Linked DNA regions of Homo sapiens: region 1 is linked to region 2. The links come from fine-mapping of genetic effects on gene expression. A gene starts in region 2. The other region holds a variant in brackets. All regions are shown on one strand. Distances are between the middles of the regions. Region 1 overlaps BCKDHA (branched chain keto acid dehydrogenase E1 subunit alpha). Region 2 holds the start of TMEM91 (transmembrane protein 91).

Region 1 (9,531 bases), 43 kb after region 2:
TGAAAGGAAGGAAGGGTCAAAGACCAGGAATGAAGAAAATCATTGAGCAGGAATGAGTGCCTGGGAGCGAAGGAGTGAGCCCAGGGAGCAGTGAGTGGGGTCTTCCAGGGAGCTTGTTGGTGTGGGGCCCTGCATGGGGACTACCCTCAGAGTGTCAGCGAGCACTGATAGGGCCAGGAAGGCATATCTTAACCCTTTGTCTTAGATGCTTGGGGCAAGTTGCTTAACTGCCCTGTGCCTCTGTTTCCTCATTCGTAAGGGGGATGGTAGCCCTTCCCAAGACAGCTGTTGAGGGCAGTCTTGGGGCAGTTGGCAAAGTGCCCTCAGCACAGAGTAAGCGCTCAGGGCCAGGGGTTGGTGTCATGATCGGGGACTCGCCCTGGGACAGCCCTTCAGCAGGGCCAGACCACGTGGCTGTCCAGAGCCCCCATGGACCAGCATGGCTTGCAGCCTGCTCCTGGACTGTCTACTGCTCACAGCTGGACCAGGCCCTTGGCCCCACATGCTCTAGGAGGGCAAACGCCCTGTGGTGTTTGTCTAAGGTCTAGTGTCATCCGTGCGGAAAAAGATTTCCAGACACCAGGCAGCAAGCTGGGCCCCCGCCAGCTGTGCTGAGCACTGCACCTGTTTTTGCTGAAGGGTTCTCTTGTGAGGGCACCAGGCAGGACCGAGCAAGCCTCATGGGAATCATGGGAGCCGCTGAGCTCTCCACATGGGAGAGCTGGCCGCCTCTGCAAGAATGACTGTCCAGCACTGAGGGTCAGCAGAAGTGTCTGGGCAGCTGCAAATGGGACTCATGCAGAGGCAGCATGGTGCAGGGTAAGGAGTTGAGTCACATCCACTCTAGACTTCACTTGGCAGGCCACTCACCTTGGTGACGCTGTCTGTCGTCTGTGAAGTGAGAAGAGTGGTGTTCATCATGATAGGTAGTGCCTCCCTGGGCTCTTGACACCAGAGTGCTGTTCTTTTTTTCTTCTCCTTTTTTTTTTTTGAGATGGAATCTCGCTCTGTTGCCCAGGCTGGAGTGCAGTGGCGCGATCTCGGCTCACTGCAAGCTCCACCTCCTGGGTTCACGCCATTCTCCTGCTTCAGCCTCCCGAGTAGCTGGGACTACAGGCGCCCACCACCATGCCTGGCTAATTTTTTGTATTTTTAGTAGAGGCGGGTTTCACCATGTTAGCCAGGATGGTCTTGATCTCCTGACCTTGCGATCCGCCCTCCTCCACCTCCTAAAGTGCTGGGATTACAGGCGTGAGCCACCATGCCTGGCCTTTTTTTTTTTTTTTGAGGTGGAGTCTCACTCTGTCGCCCAGGCTGGAGTACGGTGGCGCAGTCTTGGCTCATTGCAACTTCTGCCTTCCAGGTTCAGGTGATTCTCCTGCCTCAGACTCCGGAGTAGCTGGAATTAAAGGCATGCACCACCATGCCTGGCTAATTTTTGTATTTTTAGTAGAGATGGGGTTTCACCACGTTGGTCAGGCTGGTTTCAAACTCCTGACCTCAAGTGATTCGTTTGCCTTGGCCTCCCAAAGTGCTGGGGATTACAGGCATGAGCCACCGCGCCGGGCCAGCCAAGGTGCTGTTATATGTGCTCTTTAGCCTCGGAGACTGTCATTTCCCCTCACTGCACTGCAGAGCGAGGGCACACCGGGTGAGGTTAGGGCAGGCCCCAGTGGTGTTGCCTCATTGAGGCACCTCCCCCATCCATGTGAGGCAGGAGAGGCAAGCATTACCATCAACTCTAAAAGCCAGGTAAGAACCTGAGTCAACAAAGGTGAGGTCATGGGCCCAGGCCACATTCTCCTAAGGAGTGGAGCCGAGTCTTTTTATGGCAGTCTGACCCAGAGACAGCTCTCGCTGTTTCCCACCCTTGGCTGTCTTCCCAGGGCTATATGTGGAGTATCAGTGGTGGCACTGGCAGGGAGTGGCGCCCGGTGAAAAGGAGTGTTAAGAGGAAGCACGTGCCAGGTGTGGTGGCTCACGCCTGTAATCCCAGCACTTCGGGAGGCTGAGGCGGGAGGATTGCTTGAGCCCAGGAGTTTGATACCAGCCTGGGCAACATGGCGAGACCCCCATCTCTAAAAAATTAAAAAATTAGCCAGGCGTGGTGGTGCACACCTGTAGTCCCAGCTACTCAGGAAGCTGAGTGGGAGGATTGCTTGAGCCCAGAGGTTCAAGACTGCAGTGAGCTATGATTCCACCACCGAACTCCAGTTTGGGTGACAGAGTAAGATCCTGTCTCTGAGACCAACAAGAAAAGAGGTAGCATGTGTCAAGCAAGAGCAGCAGTTCCCACTGGACCTGGAGTTTCCTGGTGCAAATCAGCCTGTGAGTCTGTATTTTCTTTTTTCTTCAAGACGGGGTCTTACTCTGTCACCCAGGTTGAAGTGCAGTGGCATGATCTCGGCTCACTGCAACCTCTGCCTCTTAGGATCAAGTGATCCTCCCACCTCAGCCCCCTGAATAGCTGGGACCACAGGTGCACGCCACCACACCTGGCTAATTTTTTTTTTGATTTTTGGTAGAGACGGGGTTTCGCTGTGTTGCCCAGGCTGGTCTCAAACTCCTGAGCTCAAGCAGTCCACCTGCCTCACCCTTCCAAAGTGCTGGGATTACAGGCACGAGCCACTGAGCCTGACAAGTTTGTACTTTTAGCACGTTCCCCTGCCCCTGCCCAGTCCTTCTCACATGGGTGGACCTAGTACCACATTCTGAGAAAGCCTGATTCCAAGGTCCTGTATCAGTCCCTTGGACCTTCTTTGACCCTCTACAAGACCTTTCTTTCCCTCCTTAACCAGAGCAACTCCTGTTTCTATCTGTTACATATGCAGCACAGCCACATCTTGTGTGGATTTGTATTATGTCCATTCAAAAGCATGTGTCAGAAAATACCAGTAAACCTGTATTAAAGTTGGATGTTGAAGTAGTGCTAACCACCCTCAACTCTAACTAAAATATCAACAAGTGGGCTGGGCGTGGTGGCTCACACCTGTAATTGCAGCACTTTGGGAGGCTGAGGTGGGTGGATCACCTGAGGTCGGGAGTTTGAGACCAGCCTGACCAACATGGAGAAACCCCGTCTCTCCTGAAAATGCAAAAATTAGCTGGATGTGGTGGCACATGCCTGTAATCCCAGCTACTCAGGAGGCTGAGGCAGGAGAATCGCTTGAACCCAGGAGGCAGAGGTTGCAGTGAGCCAAGATTGCGCCATTGCATTCTGGGCAACAAGAGCAAAACTCCGTCTCAAAAAAAAAAAAAGAAAGAAAATTAGGTAGATCTAGTGGTGCACACCTGGAATCCCAGCTATCTGGGAGGCTGAGGCATAAGAATTGCTTGAACCTGGAAGGTGGAGGTTGCAGTGAGCTCAGATTGCGCCACTGCACTCCAGCCTGGGTGGCCAAGCCAGACTCTGTCTCAAAAAAAAAAAAAAAAAAAAAAAAAGGTAACTGCTGTGTGTAATGTGATCTCCATTAAATTTGTATCTAAAGAGCGGGTTCTGCGGTAAAGAAAGGATTTGGAAAGCACTGTACTAGAGAGCTCCCTCTGAATAATGTTCCCGGTCTGAGTGCTTGCAGCATTGATCCACAGCGCTGCCCCTAAAGTGTTGGTGTGAAGGTTGTCCCACTCTTCAGGCGGGGCAAAGAGCTTGTCTGAGGGCAATCACAAACCCCCTTCTGTCTTCTAACTTCGGAGGAAGGGCCCCCTTAACCTGGAGCGGTTCCCTTTGATGGGGAGGTGGGTGTTCACCAGAGGTTTTGTTTGAAGAAAAGGTTTTACTGCCATACATGGGTTAGAGTACTTCTGTAGTCCAGAAGTTGTAAATTAGTGGTCTATGCTGTTATTTGGTTCATAATGATGATTTTTTTTTTTTTTCGAGACAGGGTCTTGCTTTGTAGCCCAGATTGGAGTGCAGTGGCACGATCTCAGCTGCCTGCAGCCTTGAACTTCTGGGCTGAAGCAATCCTCTGCCTCAGCCTCCCAAGTAGCTGGAACCACAGGCACACATCACCATGCCTGGCTAATGTTTTGATTTTTTTTTTTTTTTGTAGAAGCGAGGCCTCACCATGTTGCTCAGGCTGGTCTCCAACTCCTGGGCTCAAGCGATCCTCCAACGTCAGCCTCTCAAAGTGCTGGGATTACAGGCATGAACCACCATGCCTGGCCATAGTAATGATTTATGGTTAGAATATTTCTTAAAGGTAATTGAATTAGTTGAAAGCACTTAAATACCAGACAATATCTCACTAAGAGAAAGAAAGAAAAAGGCTAGATTTCTGCTTTCTTTTGAAAAATCAGATTGGCCTTGCTGGGCAGAGTCAGTCAGTCTGAACATCAGTCTTCCTCTTAAAACAAGCCTGAGCTTTCCTGTCTGCCTGCCAGCATGCTGCAGGTCACCCACAGGGCTGAACTGTCCCCCTGTACTGCCCACTCGGCTAACCATTGCCTCCTCCCCTCCTAGGTGTGCTGATGTATCGGGACTACCCCCTGGAACTATTCATGGCCCAGTGCTATGGCAACATCAGTGACTTGGGCAAGGGGCGCCAGATGCCTGTCCACTACGGCTGCAAGGAACGCCACTTCGTCACTATCTCCTCTCCACTGGCCACGCAGAT[C/T]CCTCAGGGTGAGGATGCATGCCCTGTACCTTGCACATGTGCAGACCAATGTCACACCCCTGTCCAGGCCTCAGCTCTTTTGCCTGCCTTCTGGGTGGAATTCTGGGTTGGTGACACCACTAGAGCCCTGGTCTGTGCTCCAGACTTCTTCTTCTTATTTTTTTCTTTTTTGAGACGGAGTCTTGCACTGTTGCCCAGGCTAGAGTGCAGTGGTGCTATCGCAGCTCACTGCAGCCTCCTTCTCCCAGCTTCAAGCAATTCTCCTGCCTCAGCCTCCCGATTAGCTGAGACTACAGGTGTGCACCACCACGCCCAGCTAATTTTTGTATTTTTAATAGAGACAGGGTTTCACCGTGTTGGCCAGGCTGGTCTCAAACTCCCGGCCTCAGGTGATCCACCCGCCTCAGCCTCTCAAAGTGCTGGGATTACAGGCGTTTAAGCCATTGTGCCCAGCCCACTTTTTTTTTTTTTTTTTTTTTTTTTTTTTTTTTGGTCTGAGACGGGGTTTCACTCTCGTCAGCCAGGTTGGAGTGCAATGGTGCAATCTCGGCTCACTGTAACCTCCACCTCCCAGGCTCAAGTGATTCTCCTGCCTTAGCCTCCTGAGTAGCTGGGATTATGGGCATATGCCATTGTGCTTGGCTAAATTTTTGTATTTTTTGTAGAGATAAGGTTTCACCATTTTGGCCAGGCTGGTCTTGAACCTGAGTTCAAGTGATCTGCCCACCTTGGCCTCTCAAAGTGCTGGGATTACAGATGTGAGCCACTGCACCTGGCCTGTGTTCCAGACTTTGAATGCACCTCTTGTCTGGGACCCTTCAGAAGAGGGCTCTGTTGCTGTCCCCACCCCATTCAGGGGCCTGAAGCCTGTGTGACCACACTCTGGATTTCCCAACCACATGCCTACTGCATTTGTCTGCTCACAAACATAGCCAACGTGTGCACCAGGTTCCACTGTGCCAATGCTTCACGTTCATCATCTAATAAGGACCCTCATTGTGGCCATGGGGACAGAGGTTATTATTTGCTCTTGTTCCTGTTTTCAAGAGCAGGATGCCCGTGTTTTGTGTGTGTGTGAGAGACAGCAAGTGAATGGGAAAAAAAAAAGTGCAGGAGCCTGGCCAACATGGCAAAGCCCTGTCCCTACTAAACATACAAAAATTAGCTTGGCATGGTGGTGCACACCTGTAATCCTAGCTACTCAGGAGGCTGAAGCAGGAGGATTGCTTGAACCTGGGAGGCAGAGTTTGCAGTGAGCTGAGATCGTGCCATTGCACTCTAGCCAAAGTGAGATCCTGTCTCAAAAAAAAAAAAAAGGAAATTGAAGTCAAAGAGGGAAGTCACTCGCTAACGGTCATGTGGCACAGAGGGAGAGGAGCAGGGACTCAAGTCATTGACTGTGTACCTCCAGAGCCTGGGTTCTTGGCCCTGACCTTTGTCTGCCTCAGTCCTCAGAGTCAAGTAAGCTTCCCCAAAGCTTACCGTAGGTGCCCTGAAGTCCCTTCCCTTATAAGAGCTTTTTTGGGAAGCAAACCCACTGGGTGCCAGGCCTGCACCCTCATAGTGTGGAGAACAAGGAATCGGAGCCCCTTCCTGTCCTCCGGGGCCTGTAGCCTGATCTAGGGTTGGTCTGGGCCCTGGCTTCTTTGCCCTAGGGCAGCTGAGATGCATGAGTTTGTGTCTCTCCAGGCCTCAGCACTGTGCCCAGCACAGCAGGAGGCTCCACACCCCTTAGCTCATAGTGTTCTTTTGTTGAGGAACAAGAAGCAGTTTGAGCCTCTTAGGTGGGAGGTGGGCAGGGAAGCTTTCTCAGAGGAGGGGGCATTTAGGGGGCATTTGAGCTAAAGGTAATAGGGTTTCCACAAGGCTGGGGCGTGGCCCTAACCTTCCCTCTGGGTCCCTGCTAAGTCACTTCAAATACACGAAGTTCCTGCCATGTGCCGGTGCCACTCCAAGTGCAGGGAACAAAAGCAACGCAAACCTCAGCCCTCCTGGTGCTGCCATTGTGGTGGGGGAGACGGACAGTAACAGAGATGGAGAGGGAACTCCTGGAGTATATGAGGGTGGGGGTCCTGTAGGGAGCAGCCAAGCCAGCCGGGTGTGGTGCACTGTAGGGGTGGCTGGGGTCCGTCACTGGAGTGACACTGAAGTATGGACCAGAGGATGTGAGGGGGGAGCTGTGTGGTGTCTTGAGGCAGGTGTGAGCCTGGCGTGTTTGAGGAGCTGGGAGGAGCCCAGAGGGGCAGGTGTGGAGTGAGCAGGTGTGGAGTGAGCGGGTGTAGGGTGAGCAGGTGTGGGGTGGTTGGAGGTAAAGTCCAGGAGGTGGTGGGTGGGGGTGCAGATGGTGCAGGTTGGGTGGGGCCTCAAGGCCTTTGCCTGTTGCAGGGATGTCGACTTTTACTCAAAGTGGGACAGGAGCCGTGGGTGGGGAGGAGTCTGCTCTTCCTTGGCCTGGCTCACCTCTTCATGGAATCCGCGGGCTGCCCTGTGGATAAGGGATTGGGCAGTGTGTGAAGGGCTAGTAAGGAGGCTGCTCAGTAACTTGGGCTTGACCAGGGTGGTGCAGAGGAGGAGGTAAGAGGGGTTAGGTTCTGAAGGTGGAGTAGATGTGGAGAATGGCGGGAAGTTTGGCTTGGAGATGATACTGGACTCTTCAGCCTGAGCAGTTGGAAGGGTGGAGTTGCTTTCAGCTGAGCAAGAGGAGACCTGGGTGGGCAGATGCTGGGGGGCATCAGGAGCTGAGGTGTTTCCTTTCCCCTTGAAGCCTGGTGACTGCTGGCCTGAGCCACGCTTGAGCCGTGGGTCATGTGAGTGTGAATGAGTGTGAGTGCATGTGAGTCTCCGCCCCTGCTCACCACCCTCTCATCCCCTGCAGCGGTGGGGGCGGCGTACGCAGCCAAGCGGGCCAATGCCAACAGGGTCGTCATCTGTTACTTCGGCGAGGGGGCAGCCAGTGAGGGGGACGCCCATGCCGGCTTCAACTTCGCTGCCACACTTGAGTGCCCCATCATCTTCTTCTGCCGGAACAATGGCTACGCCATCTCCACGCCCACCTCTGAGCAGTATCGCGGCGATGGCATTGGTATGGGCTCTGCTGGCTGCTCCCCACCCCGCTGGGATCATCTCCTTCCCTCCCCAATCCTGCCACCTTCCTGCCACCCCTACCCTCCTTCCTGGTTCTCGTCCTGTGTCCTGTGGCGTCTGGCACTTGGTCAGCCACAGGAGTTGAGGTCCTGAGCACTCAGCCTTGCTCTCTGTCCTCTCCCTGCTCGTCCCCTTGGCCTCGTGCATGTTCCTTATCTCAGCCCTGGCCTGACCTGCCTTCTCTGTGTCCCCACAGCAGCACGAGGCCCCGGGTATGGCATCATGTCAATCCGCGTGGATGGTAATGATGTGTTTGCCGTATACAACGCCACAAAGGAGGCCCGACGGCGGGCTGTGGCAGAGAACCAGCCCTTCCTCATCGAGGCCATGACCTACAGGTGCCTGCCGCTCCCCCCGTCAGCACCCCCACAGCACTGACAGCCACCGTAGCATCTTCCTCATATCGATCACTGTCTCCAAAACATGGCCTTATCACCTGATGTTGCATCTCCCCCTTGCCTTTATTCCGTTTCCACTCCTCCTTCCCTAGTTCATCCCCCATCCTCCCTCCTGACCCCCACTCCAGGGAGCCCACACTGACCTGGGGCCCCTTGCCCCTGTGCAGGATCGGGCACCACAGCACCAGTGACGACAGTTCAGCGTACCGCTCGGTGGATGAGGTCAATTACTGGGATAAACAGGACCACCCCATCTCCCGGCTGCGGCACTATCTGCTGAGCCAAGGCTGGTGGGATGAGGAGCAGGAGAAGGCCTGGAGGAAGCAGTCCCGCAGGAAGGTGAGGGTGCCCCGCCCGGGAGGGTGTGCTGGGGGCTGCTGCGGCCTGCAGAGCTTGGGAAGGATTTGTGGAACACCGAACTGGGAGGCTCAGGGATAACCCCAGTGATGTCTCAGATGTGGCCTGTGGAGCCAGGCTGCTGGGGCCATGTGTGTCCTGGCTCTGTGTCCTTGGCATGTTGCCCTCCACTTCCTTGTCTTTGAAAGGGGATGCTGGTGGTGCCCATTTCAGAAACTGGTTTGAGACTGGGCATGGTGGCTCACACCTGTAATCCCAGCACTTTGGGAGGCCGAGGTGGCAGATCACTTGAGGTCAGGAGCTTGAGAACAGCCTGGCCAAACATGGTCAAGCCCTGTCTCTACTAAAAATACAAAAATTAGGGCTGGGCGCAGTGGCTCACGCCTGTAATCCCAGCACTTTGGGAGGCCAAGGCGGACAGATCACCTGAGGTCGGGAGTTTGAGACCAGCCTGGCCAACATGGTGAAACCTCGTCTCTAATAAAAATACAAAAATTAGCCGGGCATGGTGCCGGGTGCCTGTAATCCCAGCTACTTGGGAGGCCGAGGCAGGAGAATTGCTTGAACCTGGGAGGTAGAGGTTGCAGTGAGCTGAGATCGTACCATTGCACTCCAGCCTGGGCAACGAGAGCAAGACTCCATCTCAAAAAAAAAAATTAGCCAGGCGTGGTGGTGCGTGCCTGTAGTCCCAGCTACTCAGGAAGGTGAGGCAGAAGAATCGCTTGAACCCGGGAGGTGGAACTTGCAGTGATTGGAGATGGCGCCACTGCACTCCAGCCTGGGCAACAGAGCAAGACTATCTCTTAAAAAAAAAAAAAAGCTGGTTTGAGGATTAGGTGGCAAACCGTGGTGGAGTGTACATGCCCTGCCCAGAGTCAGTGTGCCACCCTCCCTGGCCCGGTCATTAGGACCCAGGGCCCGTGCAGCCCAGTGGTGAGGGCAGCACCCGGCATAGGGCAGCACCGTGTGTCCTGTCCCTGCCCTTCTCTGTGCCTCAGTTTCCTCATTGCTTAGCTGTC
Region 2 (15,397 bases):
AGCTGTGATTGTGCCACTGCACTCCAGCCTGGGCAACTGAGTGAGACCCTGTCTCAAAAACAAAATGCTTTTAAGCCAAGTATGGCACACAGCCGGCGGTCCCGGCTACTTCATTTTTGTTGTTGTTGTTGTTTTGAGACAGAGTTTCACTCTTGTTGCCCAGGCTGGAGTGCAATGGTGTGATCTCTCCTCACCACAACCTCTGCCTCCTGGGTTCAAGTGATTCTCCTGCCTCAGCCTCCCAAGTAGCTGGGATTGAAGGCACCTGCCGCCACGCCCAGCTAATTAGTAGAGATGGGGTTTTGCCATGTATGGCCGCGCCTGGCCATCCCGGCTACTTTGGAGGCTGAAGCCGGAGGATGCCTTGAGTGCAGGAAGTCCAGGCTGCAGTGAGCTATGATGGCACCCTGCACTCCAGCCTGGGCAACAAAGTAAGACTGCACCTCTAAAAAAAAAAAAAAAAGGCCCGGTGCAGTGGCTCATGCCTGGATTCCCAGCACTTTGGGAGGCCGAGGCAGGCAGATCACTTGAGGTCAGGAGTTCGAGACAAGCCTGGCCAACATGGTGAAACCCCATCCCTCCTAAAACTACAAAAAAAATCAGCTGAACGTGGTGGCGAGCGCCTGTAGTCCCAGCTACTCGGGAGGCTGAGGCACGAGAATCACTTGAACCCAGGAGGTGGAGGTTGCAGTGAGCCGAGATTGCACCATTGCACTCCAGCCTGGGTGACAGAGCGAGACTCTGTCTCAAAATAAATAAATAAAAATAAATAAATAAGCCTTTTAATTGTGGTAAAATACACATTTACCATCTTAACTGTTTAAAACTGTATTGTTCAATAGTGTTAAGTACATTTACATTGTGCAACCAATCTCCACAACCATTTTCATGTTGCAAAACTAAAATTTTTGCAAAGTAAACACATTTTTGAAACAAAACAACTCCCCTATTCCCCCCTCTTCTGCAGCTCCTGGTAATCACCATCCTATTTTCTTTCAATGTATTTATTTTACTTTATTTATTTATTTATTTTTTGAGATGGAGTTTCACTCTTGCTGCCCATGCTGGAGTGCAATGGCATGATCTCAGCTCAACGCAACCTCTGCCTCCCAGGTTCAAGTGATTCTCCCACCTCAGCCTCCCGAGTAACTGGTATTACAGGCATGCACCACCATGCCTGGCTAATTTTGTATTTTTAGTAGAGACGGGGTTTCTCCATGTTGGTCAGACTGGTCTCGAACTCCTGACCTCAGGTGATCTGCCTGCTTCGGCCTCTCAAAGTGCTAGGATTATAGGCGTGAGCCACTGTGCCCCACCTATTTATTTATTTTTATTTTATTTATTTATTTATTTATTTATTTATTTGAGACAGAGTCTTGCTCTGTTGCCCAGGCTGGAGTGCAGTGGCACCGTGTCAGCTCACTGCAACCTCCGCCTTCCGGGTTTAACCGATTCTCCTGCTTCAGCCTCCTGAGCAGCTGGGACTACAGGCGTGTGCCACCTTGTCCAGCTAATTTTTGTATTTTTAGTAGAGACGGGGTTTCACCATATTGGCCACGCTGGTCTCGAACTCCTGACCTTGTGATCCACCCGCCTCGGCCTCCCAAAGTGCTGGGATTACAAGCGTGAGCCACCGTGCCTGGCCACCTATTTATTTTTTTGAGAGGAAGTCTCATTGTGTTGCCTAGGCTGTGGTGTAGCAACGTGATCTCTGTTCACTGTAACCTCTGCCTCCTGGCTTCAAGGGATTCTCCTGCCTCAGCCTCCCAAGTAGCTGGGATTACAGGCATGTGTCACCACGCCTGGCTAATTTTTGTATTTTTAGTAGAGACAGGGTTTCACCATGTTGGCCAGGATGTACTCGAACTCCTGACCTCAGGTGATCAGCCCGCCTCGGCCTCCTAAAGTGCTGGGATTACAGGCGTGAGCTACCGTGTCTGGCCTGTTTTTTATTTTTTTTGAGACAGGGTCTCGCTCTGTCACCCAGGCTGGAGTGTTCTGGTGAGATCTCAGCTCACCACAACCTCTGCCTCCCAGGTTCAAGCAATTATTGTGCCTCAGCCTCCCGAGTAGCTGGGATTACAGGCATGCACCATCATGCCCGGCTGACTTTTGTATTTTTAGTAGAGACGGAGTTTTGCCATGTTGGCCAGGCTGATTTCGAACTCCTGACCTCAGGTGATCTGCCCGCCTTGGCCTCCCAAAGTACTGGGATTACAGGTGTGAACCACCATGCCTGGCCCACTATCCTCTCCTTCCTTCCTTCCTTCCTTCCTTCCTTCCTTCCTTCCTTCCTTCCTTCCTTCCTTCTTTCCTTCCTTCCTTCTTTCCTTCCTCCCTCCCTCCCTCCTTTCTCTCTCTCTCTTTCTCTCTCTCTTTCTTTCTTTCTGTTGCTCTGTCTCCAGGCTGGAGTGCAGTGGCACAATCTTGGCTCACTGCAACCTCCACCTCCTGGGTTCCAGTGATTCTCCTGCCTCAGCCTCCCGAGTAGCTGGGACTACAGGCGCACACCACCAAGTCCAGCTAGTTTTTGTATTTTTAGTAGAGATGGGGTTTCACCATGTTGGCCAGGATGATCTCGATCTCTTGACCTCGTGATCGGCCTGCCTCAGCCTCCCAAAGTGCTGAGATCACACGTATGAGCCACTGCACCCGGCCACTATCTTATTTTCTGTCTCTGTGAATGTGACTACTCTAAGTACGTCATGTAAGTGGAATCCTACAGTATTTGTCCTCTTATGACAGGATTATTTCACTTAGCATAGTGTCCTCAAGGGTCATCCAGGTCATAGCATGCAACAGGATTTTTTTCCTTCCTGACCCCCCTTTTTTTGACTTGGAGTCTTGCTCTGTCACTCAGACTATAGTGCAGTGGCTATCACAGCCACTCCTGGACTCAAGTGATCCTCCCACCTCAGCCTCCCAAGTAGCTAGGACTACAGGTGTGTGCCACCGTGCTCGGCTAATTTTTTTTTAAGTTTTGGAGAGAGAGGGTGGTCTCAGTGGCTCCCGCCTGTAATCACAGCACTTTGGGAGGCTGAGGCAGTAGGGGGCGGGGGTGGGGATCACTTGAGGGTAGGAGTTCGAGACCAGCCTGGGCAACAGGGTGAAAACCTGTGTCTACTAAAAATATAAAAATTAGCTGGGCATGGTTGTGCGTGCCTGTAATCCCAGCTACTCGGAGGCTGAGGTAGGAGAATCACTTGAACCTGGGAGGCAGAATTTGCAGTGAGCTGACATTGCGCCACTGCACTCCAGTCTGGGCAACAGAGTGAGACTTCCTTTAAAAAAAAAAAGTTTTGGGAGAGATGGGGGTCTTACTGTGTTGCCCAGGCTGGCCTGGAACTCCTGGGCTCAGGCAATCCTCCTGCTTCAGCCTCTGGGATTACAGGCATGGGATTACAGTGCTGGGATTACAGGCATGAGCCACTGTACCTGGCCAGCACTTTATTTTATTGTTATTTATTATTATTACTTTGTTTTTTCATAACATTGATGTTTTGAAGGTTATAGGCGACCTCCTTTGTAGAGTGTCCCTCATTTTGGCTTTGTCTCATGTTTCTTATTATTAGATTTAAGTTATGCATTTTGGCAGGAAAACCAAAGAAATGGTATGTGTCTCCCTCTTTGCTTCAGACCAGAGGCAACTAAGGTCAATTTGTCCTGTTAATGGTGATATTAACTTGTATCATCTGGTTAACGTGATGTTTGCCAATTTTCTCCATTAATTTTTTTTTGTTATAATAAGTAATCTAGGGGAAGCTACTTTGAGACTAAATAAATATCCTGTTCTTTATCAAATCAGATTTTCACCCAATAACTTAATAGTTTCAGTCTCTGTTGACAATCCTTGCTGGAATCTCGTGATCTTTTGTTTTTGTTTTTGTTTTTGTTTTTGAGACTGGGTTTCACTTTGTTGCCCAGGCTGGACTGCAGTGGCACAATCATGGCTCACTGCAACCTCCACCTCCTGGGCTAAACCAATCCTCCTATCTCAGTTTCCCGAGTAGCTTGGACCACAGACATGCATCACCACACCCAGCTGATTTTGTTTATTTTTTGTAGAGACAAAATTTCACTTTGTTGCCCTGGCTGGTCTTGAACTTTTGGGTTTAAGTAATCCTCCCACCTTGGCCTCCCAAAGTGCTGGGATTACAGGCTTGAGCCACCGTACCCAGCTGGAATCTCATGTTTAATATTCCAGACCTGTCACAAACACTAAGAGGTGTAGCCTCTTAGACTGTACAAGGCTAACGGCAGCCAGAGAGCTCTCACTGGAAGTGAATTAATCTCTAGGATGGCCTAGAGGGATGAGGGGACCCACAGAGCTCAATGATTTGGTGAAAAACTGAGGCTGGAGGCTGATGGGAATTTATGCCCCCATCCCACACATATGTAATAAAGACCCACTTTGTGCCAGGCACTGTTTTAGGCCGTGAGGCACAGTAGTGAAAAAACGAGATCAAATCTCAGCCCTTGTTGTGCCGACACTGATGTGGGAGGATTCAAACTACAAACAAGAAAAATACATGGTATGTTTAAGGCCGGGTGCAGTGGCTCACGCCTATAATCCCAGCACTTTGGGAGGCCAAGGCGGGCAGATCACTTGAGGTCAGGAGTTTGAGACCAGCCTGGGCAACATGGTGAAACTCCGTCTCTACTAAAAGTACAAAAATTAGCTGGGCATGGTGGCAGGTTCCTATAATCCCAGCTACTTGGGAGGCTGAGGTGGGAGAATGGCTTGAACCCAGGAGATGGAGGTTGCAGTGACCTGAGATCGTGCCACTGCACTCCAGCCTTGCTGACTGGGGTTTTGCTATGTCGCCCAGGCTGGTTTCGAACTCCTAGGCTCAAGCAGTCCTCCCTCCTCGGCCTCCCAAAGGGCTGGGATTACAGGCGTGGGCCACCGCACCTGGCCTACAGTATGCTTCATAGAAATATGAAAAGAATGAGAGCAAGGTTGAGATAGAAAGTAACAGGGCATCCCTCCTGAGTAAAACAATCCTGCCCCCTCACGCTCTCGTCTACCCTCCCGTGGGTCTCCCTGCTTCTGTCGTCTGCCAGAAACTGGCTGAGCCAAGTGCACTTGCAGACGCCATCTGTTCTCCCTGGGAGTGGGGCCGGTGCCAGCGCCAGCATCTGGACTCTTGGCAAGGAGCCCTGGAGCCCTGGAGCGAGGGAACTCCGGCCCCACAAAGGCCAGGGAATCCTCCAGTCTGGTGAGACGGAGGGCTTCTGGGAAGGGAGGCCTATACAAGGCTCCATGAAGGAGGTGGAAGCTTGCAAGACGATGATAGTCTTGTAATCAGTCCGATGGAGATGGATGTAAATAATAATATTAATAAACACCATCAAATGTGTTCAGAGTGCTTTCTTTGCCAGGCTTTGGATAAATGTTGGATATCTGTTCTTTTTATTTTTTATTTTTCTATTTCCTAGGCAGCACCTAAACCAAAATAGGTTCAGAGAGGCTCCCAATGTTGGACATTTGTTGTTGCAGCAACTCTAAGTACTCTACATATGTTATCACATAAGAGGCAAGGAGCATTATCCCCATTTTGTAGGTGAAGAAATAGGGGTTCAGAGAGGTGAAGGCATTGTCTAGAGGCCACACACTCAGTGACTTAAAGAGCCTGGAAAGGGGCCAGGAATGGTGGCTCACACCTGTAATCCCAGCACTTTGGGAGGCTGAGGCGGGTGGGTCACCTGAGGTCGGGAGTTCAAGACCAGCCTGACTCATATGGAGAAACCCCATCTCTACCAAAAATACAAAATTAGCCAGGTGTGATGGCGCATTCCTGTAATCCTAACTACTCGGGAGGCTGAGGCAGGAGAATCGCTTGAACCTGGGAGGCGGAGGTTGCGGTGAGCCGAGATCACGCCATTGCCCTCCAGCCTGGGCAACAAGAGTGAAACTCCATCTCAAACAAACAAACAAAGAGCCTGGAAAGGAAACCAGGTCTATGTGGGTCCAAATGCTGACTCATGAACATCACTGTACCACGTGACAATCAGAGCATCACCCCCTACTGGACCCCACTCCTCAGCCTTCTTTCCCTAGAAACTCCTAACCCACCTGCCTCTGCTTCCTCCTCACCCATTGGCTTAGCAAGGGCCACAGGAACACAGCCCGGGGTTACAATATGCTGGGCTTGGTACCAGCTGTTTACTGTGGCCAAGTGAGCATGCAAGTGAGCCCGTTTATTTTCTTTTCTTTTTTTTTTTTTTTTTTTTTTTTTGAGACGGAGTCTTGCTGTTTCCCAGGCTGGAGTGCAGTGGCGCGATCTCGGCTCACTGCAAGCTCCGCCTCCCGGGTCCACGCCATTCTCCTGCCTCAGCCTCCCAAGTAGCTGGGACTACAAGCGCCCGCCACCAAGCCCGGCTAATTTTTTGTATTTTTAGTAGAGACAGGGTTTCACCGTGTCAGCCAGGATGGTCTGGATCTCCTGACCTCGTGATCCGCCCGCCTCGGCCTCCCAAAGTGTTGGGATTACAGGCGTGAGCCACTGCGCCCGGCCCGTGAGCCCGTTTCTTTATCTGCAAAACAGGGATTAAAAACAAGCCAACACCCCTTCAGCACTCCTCCGCAAAAAAACACCCCAAAACAAAATAGGCCAGGCGCGGTGACTCACACCTGTAATCCCACCGCTTTGGGAGGCCGAGGCTGCAGTGAACCCAGGAGTCTGAGGCTGAAGCGAGCAATGATTGCGCCACTGCCTTCCAGCCTGGGCGATCAGAGCAAGACCCCGTCTTTTAAAAAATAATAATAAAAAAAAAATCTGCCGGGCGCGGTGGCTCACGCCTGTAATCCTAACACTTTGGGAGGCTGAGGCGGGCAGATCACCTGAGGTCAGGAGTTCAAGACCAACCTGACCAACACAGCGAAATCTCATCTACTAAAAATACAAAAATTAGCTGGGCGTGGTGGCTTGCCCCTGTAATCCCAGCTACTCGGGAGGCTGAGGCAGGAGAATCGCTTGAACCCGGGAAGCGGAGGTTGCGGTGAGCCGAGATCACTCCACTGCACTCTAGCCTGGGCGACAGAGCAAGACTCCGTCTCAAAAACAAAACAAAACAAACAAAAAAACCAAAGTAAAATAGCAGCGACAACAACAACAACAACAAGAAAAACCCGGAGCTGAGAGGAAGAATGAATGCGATGATGAATGTAAAGCGTTTAACACAGGGCTTGGGTACAGTCTGCCCTCAATGAACCAATGATGTACCCCTAGGCAATTTACCTAACCTCGGCTTGCCAGTTTCCTCCCGCGTGAAACAGGACAATAAACGATTATGCCTCTTAGGGTTGTGCTGAGGAATACATGTGTATGTAAGTTTATTTGCAAAGCACTTAGAACAGGGCGCACGGTCCTTGTTGCTGTTATTATTATTGGCTATTATTGCGCAAAGGGGAAGGGAGGCGGGGCCAAGCCAGGAAGGCCCTGGAGAATCCGGGGTGCCCCCTCCTCCGGCAGAGCTTGGGCCTGGGCTCACGAGGAAGGGGCTGCAGTTCTCCAAGGATTCCCGCCTGCTCCCAGACCCCCGGGAGTCGTAGGAACCCGTTCCTGGACGCTGACGTCGGCTTTCAGGGATCCCTCGCCGGACGCCGCGGAGGGACAGAGCCTGGGAAGCCGTCGCCCCGCCCCGTCCCCGCCCCCGCGCGCAGCGGGCCCGGGGCGCTGAGACCCGCGTAGAGCAAAGCGCAAGGTCCCAGCGCCCCTTGGATCCTCGGTGGCAGGGTCCGGGCAAGTGTCATTGCGAGGGTTCAGGAAGCCCCGGCCTGTGATCGTGAGCGGTGAGTGAGGGACGTAGGTGGGTGGGGGTCACAGTCCCTTCCCTGGGTCCTGGAGTTGGGGATGAGAGGGCAAAGCTTTGGCGAGGAAATCGGCTCAGTCAAGGTTTGGAATGAGCAGGCAGGAGGCTTGGGGACCTTCCAGGGGGATCGTAGGACGAGAAGAAGAATATTCTTTCTGGTTGTGTTGCGTGTGTACGTGTATGTGTGTGCTGGGGTTGAGGGTGTTTATGGGGGCGAGGTGTGCAAAGGATTCTGGAGAGCTGGTGCATGTGTGGGAGTTGTGTGGAGTCATAGGTGTGTGGGTGGAGTAGGGCAGGGGTGCCTGGGCCTGATGAGTGGGGCAGGCATGCCAGAGGTCATGAGAATAGGAGAGAGTGCCGGGGTGCATGTGTGCGTGTGTGCACAGGTGTCTGTGGTTTGTGATGCAGTGGGGAGTAGGGTTGTGCACGGAGTCAATTGGGATAAATGTGTAAGAAGGTTGGGGACCTGAAAGGGGTGTTTTCTGGGAGCTGATGTTTTGGGGCAAATATTCAAGGAGTCCTTTGGGAGATGAATGTGTGGAGGTGGAGGCTGGGCTTGCCTAGATGGGGCTGTGTGGCAGGGGACTTCGGGGGGCAGGTCTAGGGGACAGAGGATGGGGAATGTAGACTAGAGTGCAGTTCCAGGCAGCACTGGGGGTAGGGGATGGGTGTGTGTGTGACTGGGAGGGGTGCCTGGGCCTGGATAGGTGGTCACGCGGTATGAACCTGGGATGGATATTGGGGGTGTTTGTGGGGCAGGTAAGTGTGTAAGGCATGGTGCAACAGGTGCTGCAACTTATTGGGGTAAGTGTGATGGGTATGTGGCTTTTGCCTGAGAGAAATGCCCAGAATTTGGCTGGGTGCGGTGGCTCACGCCTGTAATCCCAGCACTTTGGGAGGCCAAGGCTGGTGGATCCCCTAAGGTCAGGAGTTCGGGACCAGCCTGGTTAACACAGTGAAACCCTATCTTTACTAAAAATACAAAAAAAAAAATTAGCCGGGCATGGTGGTGGGCGCCTGTAATCCCAGCTACTCGGGAGGCTGAGGCAGAATGGTTTGAACCCGGGAGGTGGAGGCTGCAGTGTGCTGAGATCATGCCACTGCACTCTAGCGGATCTGCAGTGGTGGATCTGCCTGGGCAACAGATGGAGACTTTGTCTCAAAAAAAAAAAAAAAAAAGAGAGAGAGAGAGAAATGCCCAAAATTGAATGTCCAGACCCCTGAGTTCTCTTCATAACCTGAGGCCAATCTTTTTTTCTCTCTGGGCCTCAGCTTCTGTATCTGTAAAATGGGTCTGAGGACCACTGCACTAACTAGTCTCTGCCTGAGTCTCTCTAAAGCAAGGGGTCAGAGGTTGAGTGAAGTGAGACTTTTACAACTTGTCTTTTTCTTCCCCCTACCCCTAGGAAACCCCTCCTGGAGTTTCCCCAAAGCCATGGACAGCCCTAGTCTTCGTGAGCTTCAACAGCCTCTGCTGGAGGGCACAGAATGTGAGACCCCTGCCCAGAAGCCTGGCAGGCATGAGCTGGGGTCCCCCTTAAGAGAGATAGCCTTTGCCGAGTCCCTGAGGGGTTTGCAGTTCCTGTCACCGCCTCTTCCCTCCGTGAGCGCTGGCCTGGGGGAACCAAGGCCCCCTGATGTTGAGGTAGGAAACAGCAGGCCTTAGTGGAAGGCACGGGAGGGGGCTGGGGTGAGCCCCACTAAGGCCAGCATCTGGCAGGTTGACAGCTGTGCCGATCTGCCTTAGGCCTGGAGTCTCACTTCCCAGCTGTGTGTGGGCTTCTGAGATTTCCAGTTACGGTTCTTCTTGTTTTATGTCTCTCATCTTTGTTGCCTGGCTTTTGGCTCTGTCTTCCCTCTGATCTCAGACTCCGCTGGTTGGTGTCTTCAGAGTGCATGCACCTCTGGCTTTTGTCCACCCTGCTGTCTCCCTCTTTGTGTGTGTGTGTGAGAGAGAGAGAGAGAGAGAGAGAGAGAGACAGGGTCTCGCTCTGTTGCCCAGGCTGGAGTGCAGTGGAGCGATCATAGTTTACTGCAACCTTGACCTCCCGGGCTTAAGCAATCCTCCCACCTCAGCCTCCTGAGTAGCTGGGACCACAGGCATGTGCCACCATGCCTGGCTAATTTTTTGGTGTTTTTTGTAGAGAAGAGGTTTTGTCATGTTGCCCAGGCTGGTCTCAAACTCCTGAGCTCAAGCAATCTGCCTGTCTTGGCCTCCCAAAGTGCTAGGATTAAAGGTGTGAGCCACCATGCCCAGCCTTCCTTTTTTTTTTTTTTTTTTTTTTTTAAGTTACTGTTGTCACTTTTTATAATTTCTCATTCCAGGCCAGGCACAGTGGCTCACACTGGTAATCCCAGCACTTTGAGAAGGCGAGGCAGGAGGACTGCCTCGCCCAGGAGTTCTAGGCTAGCCTGGGCAACTTAGTGAGACTCCATCTTTATTTTTATTTAATTTTTCATTTTGTCCTCCGAAAATTAGAAAGACCCCATCTTAAAAAAAAAAAAAAAAATTAGCCAGGTGTGATGGCGTGTTCCTGTAGTACCAGCTACTTGGGAGGCTGAGGTGGGAGGATCGCTTGAGCCCAGGCTGCAATGAGCTGTGATCATACCACCTTACTCCAGCCTGGACAACAGAGCAAGACAGACAGAAAGAAAGAAAAAGAGAGGGAGAGGGGGGAGAGAGAGAGAGAGAGAAAGAGAGAGGGAGGGAGGGAGGAAGGAAAGAAAGAAAAGAGAGAGAGAAAGAGAGAAAGAAGGAAGGAAGAAAGAAGGAATGAAGGAAACAAGGAAAGGAAGGAGGGAAGGAAGGAAGGAGAAAGCAGAAAGAAAGGAAGGCAGGCAGGCAACAATCATGATGAACTCTTACGGTTTCTGTTGGTCAGGAATTTGGGACTTAGTTGCATGGTTCTGCCTCTGGATCTTTCTTGAGGTTGCATTCAGCTGGTGGGTGGAACTAGAACAGTCAGGGGCTGGCTGGGCACTTTTCTCTCTCTTCATGGTGTCTTAGGGCTTCCTTTTTTTTTTTTTTTTTTTTTTTGAGATGGAGTTTCACCCTTGTTGCCCAGGCTGGAGTACAATGGTGCAATCTCAGCTCACTGCAACCTCCGCCTCCTGGGTTCAAGCAAATTCCCCTGCCTCAGCCTCCTGAGTAGCTGGATTTACAGGCATGTGTCACCATGCCCAGCTAATTTTGTATTTTTAGTAGAGACAGGGTTTCACTATGTTGGTCAGGTTGGTCTCAAACTCCTGACCTCAGGTGATCCACCCACCTCAGCCTCCCAGAGTGCCAGATTACAGGCGTGAGCCACCGTGCCCAGCCGAGTCTTAGGGCTTCTATGTGGTCTCTCCATGTTTGCTGCCTTGGGATTCCTTACAGCATAACGGCTTCAGGGCAGTCAGGCAGCTTATGTACCTCCAGCCTACAGCATGAATATTGCAGCAAAGCAGAAGCTGCCTCACCTTTTCTGATTTCGCTTTGGAAGTCACGTAACATGACTTCCACCACATTCTATTAATTACAAGTGAGTCATGAGCCTGCTCAAATTCAAGGGGAGGGGACACAGAACTCATCCCTTGATGGGAAGGATATCAAAGTCACATGGTAAGAAAAGCATGTGGGGCCGGGCGCTGTGGCTCATGCCTGTAATCCCAGCACTTTGGGAGGCCAAGACAAGTTAATTGCTTGAGGTCAGGAGTTCAAGACCAGCCTGACCAATGTAGGGAAAGCCCGTCTCTACTAAAAATACAAAAATTAGGCCAGGCGCGGTGGCTCACGCCTGTAATCCCAGCACTTTGGGAGGCTGAGACGGGCGGATCACGAGGTCAGGAGTTCGAGACCAGCCTGGCCAACATGGTGAAACCCAGTTTCTACTAAAGAAAAAATACAAAAATTAGCCAGGTGTAGTGGTGCACACCTGTAATCCCAGCTATTCGGGAGGCTGAGGCAGGAGAATCACTTAAACCTGGGAGGCGGAGGTTGCAGTGAGCCGAGATCACGCCATTGCACTCCAGCCTGGGCAACAGAGTGAAACTCTGTCTCAAAAAAAAAAAAAAAAAAAAAAATTAGCTGGCCGTGGTGGTGGGTGCCTGTAATCCCCGCTTTTGGGAGGCTGAGGCAGGAGAATTGCTTGAACTTGGGAGATGGAGGTTGCAGTGAGCTGAGATTGAGCCACTGCCCTCCAGCCTGGGCAAGACTCTGTCTCAAAAAAAAAAAAAAAAAAAAAAAAAGCTTAAAAATCTAAACTCTAGAGTTTTCAGCAGGCAGGTTTGCCCTAATCATTTAGGCCACTGGAGCATTTTATAATCTCCATCTTTTATTTATTTATTTATTAGTGACAGGGTCTTCTTGCTCCGTTGCTCAGGCTGGGGGGCAGACATGTGATCATAGCTCACTGGAGTCTCAAACTGCTGGGCTCAAGCCATCCTCCTGCCTCAGCCTCCCAAAGTAGCTGAGACTACAGGCACAAGACACCATGCCTAGCTAATTTTTTTTTTTTTTTTTTTTGAGATGGAGTCTCACTCTGTCGCCCAGGCTGGAGGGCAGTAGCGCAATCTCGGCTCACTGCAAGCTCTGCCTCCCGGGTTCATGCCATTCTTCTGCCTCAGCCTCCAGAGTAGCTGGGACTACAGGTGTGTGCCACCACACCCGGCTAATTTTGTTTTTGTATTTTTAGTAGAGACGAGGTTTCACTGTGTTAGCCAGGACGGTCTCGATCTCCTGACCTCATGATCCGCCTGCCTTGGCCTCCCAAAGTGCTGGGCTTACAGGCGTGAGCCACTGAGCCTGGCCCATGCCTAGCTAATTTTAAATTTTTTTTTGTAGAGATGGGGTCTTGCTGTATTGCCCAGGCTGGTCTCAAACTCCTGGCTTCAAATGATCCTCCCGCCTTGGCCTCCCTAAGTGTTGGGATGACAGGTGTGAGCCACTGTGCCCGGCCAATAATCTCCATCTTTTTGCAGGTTCCTTGTTTCAGTGGTGTTTGTCCCTGCTCAGGGGCTTTTCTTTTTTTGAGATGGAGTCTCACTCTATTGCCCAGGCTGGAGTGCTGTGGCTCGATCTCAGCTCACTGCAACCTCCACATCCTGGGTTCAAGTGATTCTCCTGCCTCAACCTCCTAAGTAGCTGGGATTACAGGGGCATACCACCACGCCTGGCTAATTTTTGTATTTTTAGTGGAGATGAGGTTTCACCATGTTGGCCAGGCTGGTCTCCCAACTCTCGACCTCAGGTGATCCACCCACCTCGGTCTCCCAAAGTGCTGGGATTACAGGTGCAAGCTACCACGCCCGGCCATGCGGGGGCTTTTCACTCAGAGATTGTAAGCAATTGTAGCGTCCATGATTGGATCCGTCAACCCCTTGAAAATGAACTGAAAACTCTGGGTGTGGGTGGGGCTCTTCTCTGGAGACCTGATCCACAACTTCCCTTCAAAGGGCTCCAGGATACAAATGTCAAAAGCCCATCTCTGGCCAGGTGTGGTGGCTCATGCCTGTAATCCTGGCACTTTGGGAGGCCAAGACGGGTGGATCACCTGAGGTCAGGAGTTCAAGACCATCCTGGCCAACATGGTGAAACCCCATCTCTACTAAAAATACAAAATTAGCCAGGTGTGATGGCGTGTGCCTGTAATCCCAGCTACTCGGGAAGCTGAGGCAGGAGAATCATTTGAACCCGGGAGGCAGTGAGCCGAGACTGTGCCATTGTACCCCAGCCTGGGTGACAGAGCAAAACTCCGTCTCAAACAAACACCGAAAGCCCATCTCTGAACACTTTTTTCTCTTTGTATCTCTGGGGAAGCCCTAGGGGCAGGTATTGGCCTTTGAGGGCTATGGAGAGCAGAGCAATGGGGCAGGAAAGGTGGATGGAGATGCCCACCTGGGCACTTTCCTGTCCGTAGGACATGTCATCCAGTGACAGTGACTCGGACTGGGATGGAGGCAGCCGTCTTTCACCATTTCTACCCCACGACCACCTCGGCTTGGCTGTCTTCTCCATGCTGTGTTGTTTCTGGCCCGTTGGCATCGCTGCCTTCTGTCTAGCCCAGAAGGTCAGTCTGTGTGTGGGACTTGGAGGGGACTGGGCATAAAAGAGAAAAATGCACCACAAAAACAAAGAGCCATATACCTGAGGCGGGAAGGTGGAAGGTAGCCCAGAGAACCTGAACTCAAATCCTGAGTCTGCCACTCTCTGCAAGATTTTTTTTGAGTCTCACTTTGTCGCCCAGGCTGGAGTGCAGTGGTACAATCTCGGCTCACTGCAATCTCTGCCTCTTGGGTTCAAGTGATTCTCCTGCCCCAGCCTCCTGAGTAGCTGGGATTAGAGGCGCGCGCTACCATGCCTGGCTAATTTTTGAATTTTTAATAAAGACGGGGTTTCACCACGTTGGCCACGCTGGTCTCGAACTCCTGACCTCAAGTGATCCTCCCATCTTGGCCTCCCAAAGTGCTGGGATTACAGGCGTGAGCCACGGTGCCCAGCTCTCTGCAAGATTTTGGGCAAGTCACTTAACTTCCCTGTGCCTCACTTTCCTCATCTGTAAAGTGGGAATAATTGCTACCTCTGGGTCAATGTGAGAATCAAATGAGTTAGAATAGTGGCATATACCATTTTAATGTTTTTATTTATTTTTTAAAATTTATTATTATTATTATTTTTTACCATTTTAATGTTTTTATTAACCACTCAGCATCCCCAGTGCCTGACCTATAGTAGGTGCTACGTATCTGCTTTTGGAATACATGCATGAATGAATGAATGGGTATGTTGGGTGGGGGAGGGACCAGGGGAAGGGTCTGGGACTGAGGGGATGCCTGGGTCACTGCTGCCCACTGCCTCTACAGACCAACAAGGCTTGGGCCAAGGGGGACATCCAGGGGGCAGGGGCCGCCTCCCGCCGTGCCTTCCTGCTGGGGGTCCTCGCCGTCGGGCTGGGCGTGTGCACGTATGCGGCTGCCCTGGTGACCCTGGCTGCCTACCTTGCCTCCCGAGACCCGCCCTAGTTGCCCCTACAGCCCTCACTGTGAACCCTGAGGCCGGCAGCCCAGCAAATCTGTGGGCAGAGAGTGGAGAATCTTGGTGGATGAGGCTGCGGCGGCGGCAGGAGCATCTAGAAACGGGAGCGAGCTGGACTGGAACCCTTCCCCTTCCTGGCCACCGCTCTTCGGGCGGCAGCAACCTGAGATTAAACACCAGACACCCTTGCAGCCAAACCAGAGTCTGTTCGCGTGTGTGGGAGGATGGAAGGGGGTGGGGGTGCTTGAGACCAACAGGGGACTGACTGGTCAGGGTGACGGGCTGTGGTGGGCATCCCCAGGGTGCTTGCTCCCTGAGACCTGAGCTGGAAAAGGGGGAAGAGGATTTTCGGGTTTTTTTTGTTTTTTGAGAGATGGTCTCCCTGTTGCCCATGCTGGAGTGCTGTGGCACAATCATGGCTCACTGCAGCCTTGAACTCCTGGGCTCAAGCAATCATCCTGATTGAGCCCAGGAGCCTCCCAAGTAGCCGGGACTACGGGCACCTGCCACCACACCCAGCTAATTAAAAAAATTTTTTTGTAAAGACAAGGTATCACTATATTGCCCAGG

Evidence for each region.
Region 1: its variant is fine-mapped to the expression of TMEM91 in whole blood (TOPMed, PIP above 0.99).

Annotation. Positions count from the first base shown.
Region 1 is chr19:41,414,676-41,424,206 of GRCh38, forward strand. BCKDHA (branched chain keto acid dehydrogenase E1 subunit alpha) reads left to right here. Exons shown (of 9, transcript NM_000709.4): 5 at 4,460-4,621; 6 at 7,489-7,695; 7 at 7,954-8,095; 8 at 8,323-8,494. Among named protein-coding and RNA genes, the nearest start is that of B3GNT8, 7.9 kb to the right of the region's middle. The variant C/T (reference allele first, on the strand shown) is at 4,614.
Region 2 is chr19:41,369,060-41,384,456 of GRCh38, forward strand. It overlaps TMEM91 (transmembrane protein 91), which reads left to right and starts at 7,474. Exons shown (of 4, transcript NM_001098821.2): 1 at 7,474-7,795; 2 at 9,222-9,460; 3 at 13,713-13,862; 4 at 14,656-15,024. The coding sequence starts at 9,251. The coding sequence ends at 14,814. RefSeq lists silencers at 7,590-7,719, 10,794-10,967 and an enhancer at 14,871-15,370.